Linked DNA regions of Homo sapiens. The protein of the gene in region 3 purifies or fractionates together with the protein of the main gene of each other region. This does not show direct contact. Each region holds a gene or a part of one and is shown on either strand. Other genes may lie near its edges.

Region 1 (3,692 bases), on a different chromosome or scaffold from region 3:
TCTTCCTATCTTGAGAGACGGGGGCAGGGGAGGGAGGGAGATGGTGTAAGAAAGTGAAATCTCCATCCATCACAGCAGGAAGTAAATAGACAACGTGCAGAATAGATAAATCGAGAAACAGCAGTGTAAGCATATCATTTAGAGATCTGGAGGCAGCTACTAGAAGAAACAGTGAGTTAAAAGTGGCAGCCTCTAGGGGAGGGTGGGTGCTGGATGGTTGTTTTTCATTATAAGGCTTTCAATACTATTTGATTTTTTAAAACATTTGTATATATCGTTTTGATCAAAATTTAATAATTTGCTTTAGAAGACAACCACCCAAAGTCTCCTTGTTAGCAGTTCAGACACCTGGCCGGTACCCAGCACTGACTGGCAAGGTGGTCTTTGTTGTTTCAGTCCCCTGCTCCTGTCCTCCGGGACCAGAGGCCCTATCACCTACAGCTTCTCTCCACACAGGGGACCTGCAGTCAGAGCCGAGAAATCAAGTCAGCCTCGACTTGGGCCACTGGAGAAGGCCTATCCTCCTCGTTGTTTATGAGTAGACTGAGTAGACAGAGAAAAAGATCTTGGTGGGGGCTAAAGGACTTTCCCCTTCGTTTGCCATTTTGCCCAGCTGCTTCCTGTGTTGTTAAGGTTGAGGTGGCCTTTGTGGTGACACCAAACCAGGCTACCAGCAGCTCAGGGGAACGGCCTCATGCTCTCAGGAGGGGAAGTCATGCCACCAAGGTGGCTTGCTGATTTGCTCCTGCTGGGGCCCTGGGGCTGTCATATGAGGAACACCAACATGACGCGTATGTGGGGAGAGGAGCTGCCTCTCAGATGCACCTGCTAAAACTCACAAGGGAAGCCATGCATCTGCTACGGAAACAAAGAGGAGGGCTTCAGGTCTGGCCACCAGATCGGAGCACGTGGAACTCAGCTCCATCGATGTGAAACCACAACTCGAACATGGCTCAGTATGAAGACAAAGGCCCCCAAATCACATTTTCACTCACTCTAAAAGGGCAAATTTCTCTGTCTGTAAAATGTGGAGGTTAGCCTTGGTTCTCTCTCAACCATGATGTCCAAACCTGCCTTGTGAAGGTTATTGCGGGTAACTTGTGCTAATAATAGCTTAAGCACTGAGGTTTGCAAACAAGGTACATTTTATTGTATGTGAGGCGAGGGTTCAAGATCTCTGTGTGATATTATTGCTTGCATGTTCATCTCTTCCCTTGAGTGGCAGGAATGGAGCAGAGTTGGGGGGTTGGCTGTGGGGGCTGATGTGTTCAGCATGTCAACATTGTCCATTTTGTGTACTAAAAAAACCACAACAGCAACCAGTTAAGAATCACTGGATTTGGGCCTCTCTCAGGACCCTCCCAACACTAAAGCAAATGACCATGACTACAGTTGAGACATTCCATCCAAAGGGCTTCCTTAAAGACATGTGTTAAGGATCATGCAGACCATTCTCTGTGGCCAAGGTATACAGGGCATAATAAACCTGTCCAAGGATACTCTTCCTTTGTGCCTTTGCTCAAACTGTCTCCACTCCCTTATGGACTGTCTTCTTCCCTTCTCAAATCTTACCGATCTATCATGGCCCACACGAAGACATGCCTTTTCCACAAAGGTCTGACCAGCCAAGCCCCTTAATGACCTTTATTTCTCTCACTCCCTTAGCACTCACAGTCTAGAGTCCACAGTTTTTAACTGCACGACAAACTGCTTTATATTTCACTAATTCTTTGGATTGCTAAGAATGCCAAGGATAGTCATCTTATCTGAGTTTGACCCATAGCAACCAGCACAGAGATAGGCACACACCAGGAATTACTTGCTTAATTAATACTTCATGAATGATTTGTTGACTGCATGAGCCAATGACCAAAATTCTTAACTTCTGGTTTAAAAAAATTAACAAGAAAGTTAAAATATCATGCTTCTCTAAGGTCCCATATCCAAGGCTGCCTTGTCAATATAAGAATCTGAGGAGAGTTCTTTAGAAAATCCTTCTGTCGTATAGTTTCCACTTCAAACCCTAAGAAGCAGGTCCTCATTTCTCTTTCCCATATGGAAGTATAACAGACTTGGAGATAGGGGGCTGACCTCTAGTTCTGAATTCTTATCTTGCCATTCATATCTTGCCAAAACAAATCTTAAAGCATCATATTTTAAAAGCACAAATCAAAAATAGTTCTCGGATATTCCTTAAGAGTTACTGCATGTCTTCTCTGAGGGTCAGCCCTGCAAATTCTCTTTGATCTCAGCCAGGCCTTCAGTGAAGTTAGACAATTCTCTCATTCTTCCCCAGTTTATTTCTTATTCCACCCACATAGGCAACTGTTCCAAACCCTGAAGTCTCCTGAAGTTTCCTAACCAGTCCATCACCTTTATTTCCTGCAGAGGACCTCACCTCCTGCCTTACTTAGAAAACAGAGAACATGGACAGACTAAACACACCTCTGTTTTACCTAGAGATTAAAGCCTAAGAACCATTGCTCTACAATGACCAAATAATGACGCAAACAGAATCAAAAGGTCTACTGATGAAGTCATCACTGGGTCTTTCTCAGGCATCTCGCAAGAAGGTCCTATTTACTTCCCTCTCTCACTGCCTGTATCTGAGTTGCCCAAAGTCTATCAAAATGCCACGCAACCAGAATGATCCCTGCAAGAAATTCTGCCTGAACTCAAGCTCTGCCTTCTCAAAACAATTTCTTTCAAGAATTTGCACCCTCTGTTGCCAGGGCCCAAGTATGGCTTAAATGGCTATTTTTTGAGGTACATCACACACAGCCCTTAGCATAATGCCCATGGCTAGAAAGCCAATATCTAAGCTCTTTGCATCCTGGGAGGCGTCCCATACCCACTGACTGAATTCTGAAGTGTCTTTGTACAGACAAGGCCATCCAGGGGCCTTGACAGAATCTGTGAATCACAAAGTGCCTTTAAGCTTCCCATTGGCTCAACAGTACAGAGAGGCCACAGATCCATCTTCTTAAAGTGACACACAATATATAATTAATAAATTGTTTCTTAAGGAATGGAGGGCATTTACCCAAAAGAGTCACACATTCAGGAGGCTCCTTCTCTATTTCCACGGCTTTTTTTTCTCAGACTGGGATTTACAGACATTACCTCATCCGCAGGCTTTCATGATGACAGGCAGGTAACAGTTGGGCAGGCTGCCTTCCATTGCTCAATTTTGAACGTCAGAGAGGTAGTGGCTGGTTTAAGGGCACACAGCAAGTCAGGGATCCTGTGTCCCATGCTCACTGTGCTGCTCTGTCTGCCCTGGAAGCAAAGCATGCCCTCAACATTTTTGGATGGTTGCAAAATGCTGAATTCTCACAGAGGAAGAGGCCCTTCCTTAACTCTACGTGTTGAAATGTGAGAATGGCCCTGGGCTTCTGCTTGGCTTGTTCCCTCCCACTTCTCCCTACCTACTCAGGTTCCACCCACCTCTCTTGTGCTACTTAAGAGCACTTCCCACCTGAAGCCTTTCACTTCATGCCCTATCACTCTTAACTTTCCCTTCCTTCGGCCGGTAAACTTGGGGCTGGGTTTACTGGTCACAGAGACCAACTTCCCTCAAAAAAGCAAAATTCAGGAAAGCTCTGGAGGGAGAGGGGCTGGTAATAGCCAAGGGTTGATTACATACATAAGCCAAATTCTTAATGATTATGTAATTAATACATTATAACAAT
Region 2 (2,453 bases), on a different chromosome or scaffold from region 3:
TTGATCTTCATTTTAGAAGGTTGTTTCTCTGACTTTGTAAGTTCATACATTAAAAAAACTACTGAGAAAATACAGTGATGATATGTAGAAAGGAAAAGATATAGTTATTTTGGCCCTAATCTGCTCACGATGGCGTCTCTTACCATTTCTCACTGGTAGGATCTTTTCCCCCTTCTCTAACTTTATTCTTCGTTCATTTTTATTTTGCTTCAGCTAGTTGTTAGAGGAAACAATTGAGATCATCTGAATTTTGCAATATACCCCAAATTCTGTCCTTTCCCCCAACAGTGGTTCTCGACCGTTTGTGGTAGCAGTAGATGACATCATGTTTCAGAAACCTGTTGAGGTTGGCTCATTGCTCTTTCTTTCTTCACAGGTAGGTGTGTGATGAGAGATGACATACAACTTTTTTTTTTCATTTGAGCCTAGAAGTTTCTATATCAAAAAGCCACTGTTTTCTCTTATGACTGCCTTTTTCCCCTTCCTAATGCAGTTGACTGATTATAGTGTCTATAATCTGTTAGGTATGCTTTACTCAGAATAATTATATTCAAGTCAGAGTACACAGTGAAGTGGCCTCCCTGCAGGAGAAGCAGCATACAACCACCAATGTCTTTCATTTCACGTTCATGTCGGAAAAAGAAGTGCCATTGGTTTTCCCAAAAACATATGGAGGTAAGTAGTGATTATTGCTTGTCCCTAACAAAGGGAAGAACTTCTAAGGACATTTTTCTCCTTTTGAATTGGAGGAAGTGTATTGATGCCTGTCAGCACAAGAGCATGTCTTCAGGAGATTTTGCTTTTGAGATTTGGCAGCCCTGAAGGCCAAAGATGCCTGTGGCCCCCAGGCGGGCAAGCAACCACTGGTAGTCAAAAACTGATCCAGCCAGGCTGGGCGTGGTGGCTCATGCCTGTAATCCCAGCACTTTGGGAGGCCGAGACGGGCAGATCACGAGTTCAGGAGATCGAGACCATCCTGGCTAACACGGTGAAACCCCGTCTCTACTAGAAAAAAAAAAAAAAAAAAAAAATTAGCCGGGCACGGTGGCGGGCACCTGTAGTCCCAGCTACTCGGGAGGCTGAGGCAGGAGAATGGCGTGAACCTGGGAGGCGGAGCTTGCAGTGAGCTGAGATTGTGCCACTGCACTCCAGTCTGGGCAACAGAGCGAGACTCCGTCTCAAAAAAAAAAAAAAAAAAAAAACTGATCCAGCCAAAGGAAGGGGACAGGAGTCATGGCCTGCTCCTTTGGGAATGTGGCACACCCCGGCCCAACAGTGTATCTTGTTCTGTCCCAGTGTTCCCAAGTAGTCTTGTGTTTGTATGATGATATGATGGTTTTCTACGGTATTACAAGTTTCTCCAAGGTTCTCTTTCTTGTGTTTCAGAGTCCATGTTGTACTTAGATGGGCAGCGGCATTTCAACTCCATGAGTGGCCCAGCGACCTTGAGAAAGGACTACCTTGTGGAGCCCTAAGAACACCACATTTGTTGAAAACTAGCACTCTACCCACAGTGACGTGGTATCTGATGAAGACCTGATCGAGTGTATTGATTTTAGTATTGCTTCGTGTCCTCCACACAGGAGGAGGATGTATTCAGCCTTTAGGATGATCAGAAAAGCAGAAAGAGAGAGTGGCCGGATGGGGCTGAGGGGAGAAAGAATTATTAAACAATAAATACTTTCAAGACAATTTTAATTGTGAACCTACCATGTTGCCTCCCATCTTCTGAAAAAACAAAAAAATTGAGAGGCTGGGCGTGGTGGCTCATGCCTATAATCCCAGCACTTTGGGAGGCTGAGGCGGGCGGATCATGAAGTCAGGAGATCAAGACCATCCTGGCCAACATGGTGAAACCCTGTCTCTACTAAAAATACAGAAAATTAGCCGTGGTGGCATGTGCCTGTAGTCCCAGCTACTTGGGAGGCTGAGGCAGGAGAATTGCTTGAACCCAGGAGGTGGAGGTTGCAGTGAGCTGAGATTGCACCATTGCACTCCAGCCTGGGCGACAGAGAGAGACTGTCTCAAAAATTAATTAATTAATTAATTAATTGAGGATACCATTGGATGCATTCTTTTCTTACACATATTGCAACTGTCAGTATACAAGGTTTCCTGCCAGGGTATTTGGATGACGTTCTTTAAACCTAACCACTTGCTCTGTGCTGTCTAAATCCCATCAGCCGTACATGATTCCTTTGCTTCCCTCTATTTCCCAGCTTTTGTTGTCAGAGGGTAGATGAAAAGTTGGGGCGAAGGGATTTAACAAAAGTTACTGCATCCGTAAAGATTTGTGGGAAGATTTAGGTCTGAAACCATACCATTAGAAGGTGTTTAGAGATGATCTAGATAAGGAAATACAGGACCATTTGGTCATTCTTTCATTCACCAGACAGCTATTTAGCACATTCTGCTAGTGGCTCCGCAGGATATATCTGATTTAAAAAATAGGA
Region 3 (3,692 bases):
CCAGCCTCCTTATCCATGCCCTTCAGGACAGCCTCACAGCCTCCTCAATATTACAAACTATTATACTTTTTACATGTGGACAAGTAAACAAAGAGGTGTGATGTTTAGACATTGACAGGGCCTGTGACCGTTTTCGGAGACTAACACGACTGTTGAAAAATATTTCTTGTTCACCCTTAAAAACAGTGAAAATAAAACATGTATGACCAACTAGTGAAGTCCACCTAAATCAACACTAGTCACAAGTATTGCAATTATTTATTTATTTTGCTCTAACACTGCCACGAAGACATCTAGAGGGACACAATTCTGCCTTCATTAGGGCTTTTCATAACACGTGCTCAACAAATACTTGAAAAAAAAGAATGGTCATGGAATTTAATACTTTTCTAGAATTAGGTGGCAGGAGCATGTGTACAAACATTTATTCAATTTTCATTACTTTGAAGTTTTACTAGATGTGATGGTTCATTTTCATCTCAAAAAATTTGATCTCCTTTTTGTTTTTAAAAAATGCATCTTTCTATAGTGTAAATACTTTATAATATTATTAGTTAATAATTTCTCAGAACAAAAATAATTTAAATTCCAGCCAATTTGAAAGACCACTTAGGAAGGTAATTAACTTTCAGAGGTAAACAAATAAACTTATTGATATTTGGAATATAGAAACTGCGTAGGAATCTCTGGTGTCATTTTGGTTGGAGGAAAACTTAAGGAAAAAAATTAAAACCTTTGGGTAATAATGCCTTATTCAATTGGGAAATATACAATTTTGCTAGAGGGCAAAGAAGGAGTGATCATCTTCCAGCCGGAGGCATTATCTCTAGAATTCTTGTAATAGTGACTTGGCTTGCTTAACTTGGGTAGAATTAATTGTCGTGAAGTTATGCTGATCTTTTTTATCCAGGCACTCCTAGTGCAAAAGTCCTTGGTAGAAGTGAATTCCTGACAATGGCAATGCTTTAGCTCTCTGAGAATCATTTTCTTGTATTTTTCCCCAAATTGCAATCATTTGTAGCATTAATTTACTATTCTTCATGTCCATCATGTAAGCATCTAATCTGATGGACTGATAGTAAAATACAATTCAATTACACCAGATAGTTGGAATTAAAAGTCCATTTCATTTGCTAACCCATTACAGCTTAACATAAAACAAAACATACAAAAACTTAACATAAAAATCAAGAGTCAACAAACAACCTTATCTAGACTCCAGTTTCAATAATTTCTTAGATAGGAGAGAAAAATCCTTAAATTCAGGATGGGTTCCAAATCAAATATGGATTGACTGGCAGCTGAAATGCTAATAAAGTCTGATGAGAAGTAAAATTTCCATAGTTATTATCCAGGTTTTGGAACATGACTATACCTGTAAAAAAATCAGAATGAAAATTATTTGTAATTGAAAAAGTGAAAGTCTGGGAGTTTTACATCAAATAGTTGGGCTGATATTTAATAATATCTTTCTAAGTTTTGTAAAGAAAGAAAAACATGCAAGGGAATTGATAACTTTTGAATGGAGAAATTTTTCCCCTTGTTAATTGACTTTGCTTTTGGTTTTTTAATCTGACTCAATTATACCAGTTTCTTATACCACAATTAATATGCAATTAGGACAGTAAGCCTTCCTTCCATCCATCTGTCCATCTCCCCATCTAGCCACACATATCCATTTGACATTACTATTGCTGCCAGTTCATACTTTTTAATGATAATATTAGCTAATAGTATTATATACTTACTATTGTTGAACTCTATTCTAAATTATTTACAGTCTTCATCTCTCATAATCTTCACATCAGCAGGAGGTAGGAGTTATTACTAGCATCATTTTACAGTTGAGAGTAATATATACTAGTTGAAATTCCTATGCTTTTTTGTTTTGTTTTGATTTAATTTTGGTTTCTCAGTAATCTTTTCTGAGGCTCAAGTTTTGAAAACTTCATGTAACAATGAGACAACAGTTGTCAATGCTTGAATTACCAGACTGGTCAGGACTAATGTGGTCCTAGTGACCTATGATATGTTAGTTGTAGTATGAAGGCATTATGGAGGAACATTATGGAAAGAAATGAAGAGTTAAAAAGGATTCTTTTCTAGAAAAGTTATATTAGAAATGTGTTTTTCTTTTACTACTACTATATTTTGCATACATAGTTCAGATTCATACATTTTAATTTCAAAAACTAAGGAAAGCACATATATGTACAAAAGTTCTTTCCAAATAATTACATCATTTTACTTGAAATTGAACAGAAAAGTCTTTATGGCAATCAGAAATACATGAAGTTTGGATCTTATATACCTTCTTTGTGTGAAAACACATTTTAAGAAACAAAATTATTATTGTAATTATGCAACCAAATGTTTAACTTTGCATACAGTATTTACCCCTTCCCATCATATTTTAGTTCAAGAGCTTTGACCTTTGTCCTGCTAGTGTTGCTGCTTTGAGAGAAGGTTTGCTATTCAGGTAGCACTTATTTAATATTTACTTCAAATATTGTGGTTGTAATTATTCTAGTGAGATATTTTCTCCAATCGGATTTGGCCATAATTATTGGAGTTTTGAGTTGTTAGGGATAATAAACAGCACCTTGCTTTTTTCCCCACCCTGGATAAAAGTAAAATGTGTTCTCACCCTGCAGGCAGTGTTCCTCTTTACATGATATCCTCCAAGATGATGAGTTCTAATCCTGAGGAAGACCCTTTGGACACATTTCTCCAGTACATTGAGGATATGGGGATGAAGGCCTATGATGGCTTGGTTATTCAGAATGCGTCAGATATTGCTCGAGAGAATGATCGCTTGAGAAATGAAACTAACCTAGCCTATTTGAAAGAGAAGAATGAAAAACGCCGAAGACAAGAAGAAGCAATAAAGCGGTAAATATAAATAAAATTATTTTGAGTTTTGTGCACATGAGAAAGTCCATGAGGGCTGCTAAAGTTGTGATGTTGTCACTTGGTCAGAAAAGGTCTTCCAGAGTCAGTTAGACTTGGTGAGAGCATATGAAAGCGACCCCTCAACTATAACAAAAACACCACCCACACTGCCAACAGCATCCTTAGTTAACAAAAGTTATTTCCTTGTGTGTGTGCATATGCAGCTACAGACAGGATGGGGAAAAATTCAATTTCCTCTGAACAAAAGCTCATACTCAATAACCTCTTGGCAAAGACGCAAGGGAACACACAAACCTTTTAATAGCCCAAGATTGATGAAAATCCCTACCTTTAATGGCCTTTGGTTATAGTTCTTACCTTTAAATAGAGCTCATCTTCTTTCTAGATTATGGCCAAGATACATCAATAATTATACTTACGTGAGCCTCTGAAGGCAGGTAGAATCCTCAGGGTGTGCTCTCCCTATGCAGACTTTTATGGCTGTTAAATTTCTTGTTTGTTACCAAGTGCCACAAGTTTGTTCAAATGGAATTACTTTTATGATGCAAAACCTACCAGCTACTAGCTGGTGAGCCCCAGATGGTGGCCTTCCAAATTGAGGTTAAATTTCCTAGAGCGCTGACACCAAAAGAAGAATGCATATCTTTTGATTTTTTAAAAAGAATGTTACAATGTTTTCAGTTTGCCTGTGTGTGTGTCTTCTGGTGGTACAGAGAGAGACACCTGTGTCAGATGGAGTCCTGTTTCTTCAAATAAAGTTCACTTACTAAGTGCAAAAT

What was found.
Region 1: the proteins of NYAP2 (region 3) and CYFIP2 purify together in Homo sapiens (affinity purification with western blotting, with the first as the bait; one study listed by BioGRID). This does not show direct contact.
Region 2: the proteins of NYAP2 (region 3) and ACOT9 purify together in Homo sapiens (affinity purification with western blotting, with the first as the bait; one study listed by BioGRID). This does not show direct contact.

Annotation. Positions count from the first base shown.
Region 1 is NC_000005.10:157,269,015-157,272,706, reverse strand, and holds part of CYFIP2 (cytoplasmic FMR1-interacting protein 2), read right to left. Parts: intron 3,384-3,692; exon of another isoform or gene 3,124-3,383; intron 1-3,123. UniProt on the Homo sapiens protein: Involved in T-cell adhesion and p53/TP53-dependent induction of apoptosis. Does not bind RNA. As component of the WAVE1 complex, required for BDNF-NTRK2 endocytic trafficking and signaling from early endosomes.
Region 2 is NC_000023.11:23,702,916-23,705,368, reverse strand, and holds part of ACOT9 (acyl-coenzyme A thioesterase 9, mitochondrial isoform a precursor), read left to right. Parts: intron 1-288; coding exon 289-376; intron 377-524; coding exon 525-675; intron 676-1,386; coding exon 1,387-1,475; 3' UTR 1,476-2,453. UniProt on the Homo sapiens protein: Mitochondrial acyl-CoA thioesterase. Catalyzes the hydrolysis of acyl-CoAs into free fatty acids and coenzyme A (CoA), regulating their respective intracellular levels. Regulates both mitochondrial lipid and amino acid metabolism.
Region 3 is NC_000002.12:225,406,210-225,409,901, forward strand, and holds part of NYAP2 (neuronal tyrosine-phosphorylated phosphoinositide-3-kinase adapter 2), read left to right. Parts: intron 1-2,654; 5' UTR 2,655-2,671; coding exon 2,672-2,892; intron 2,893-3,692.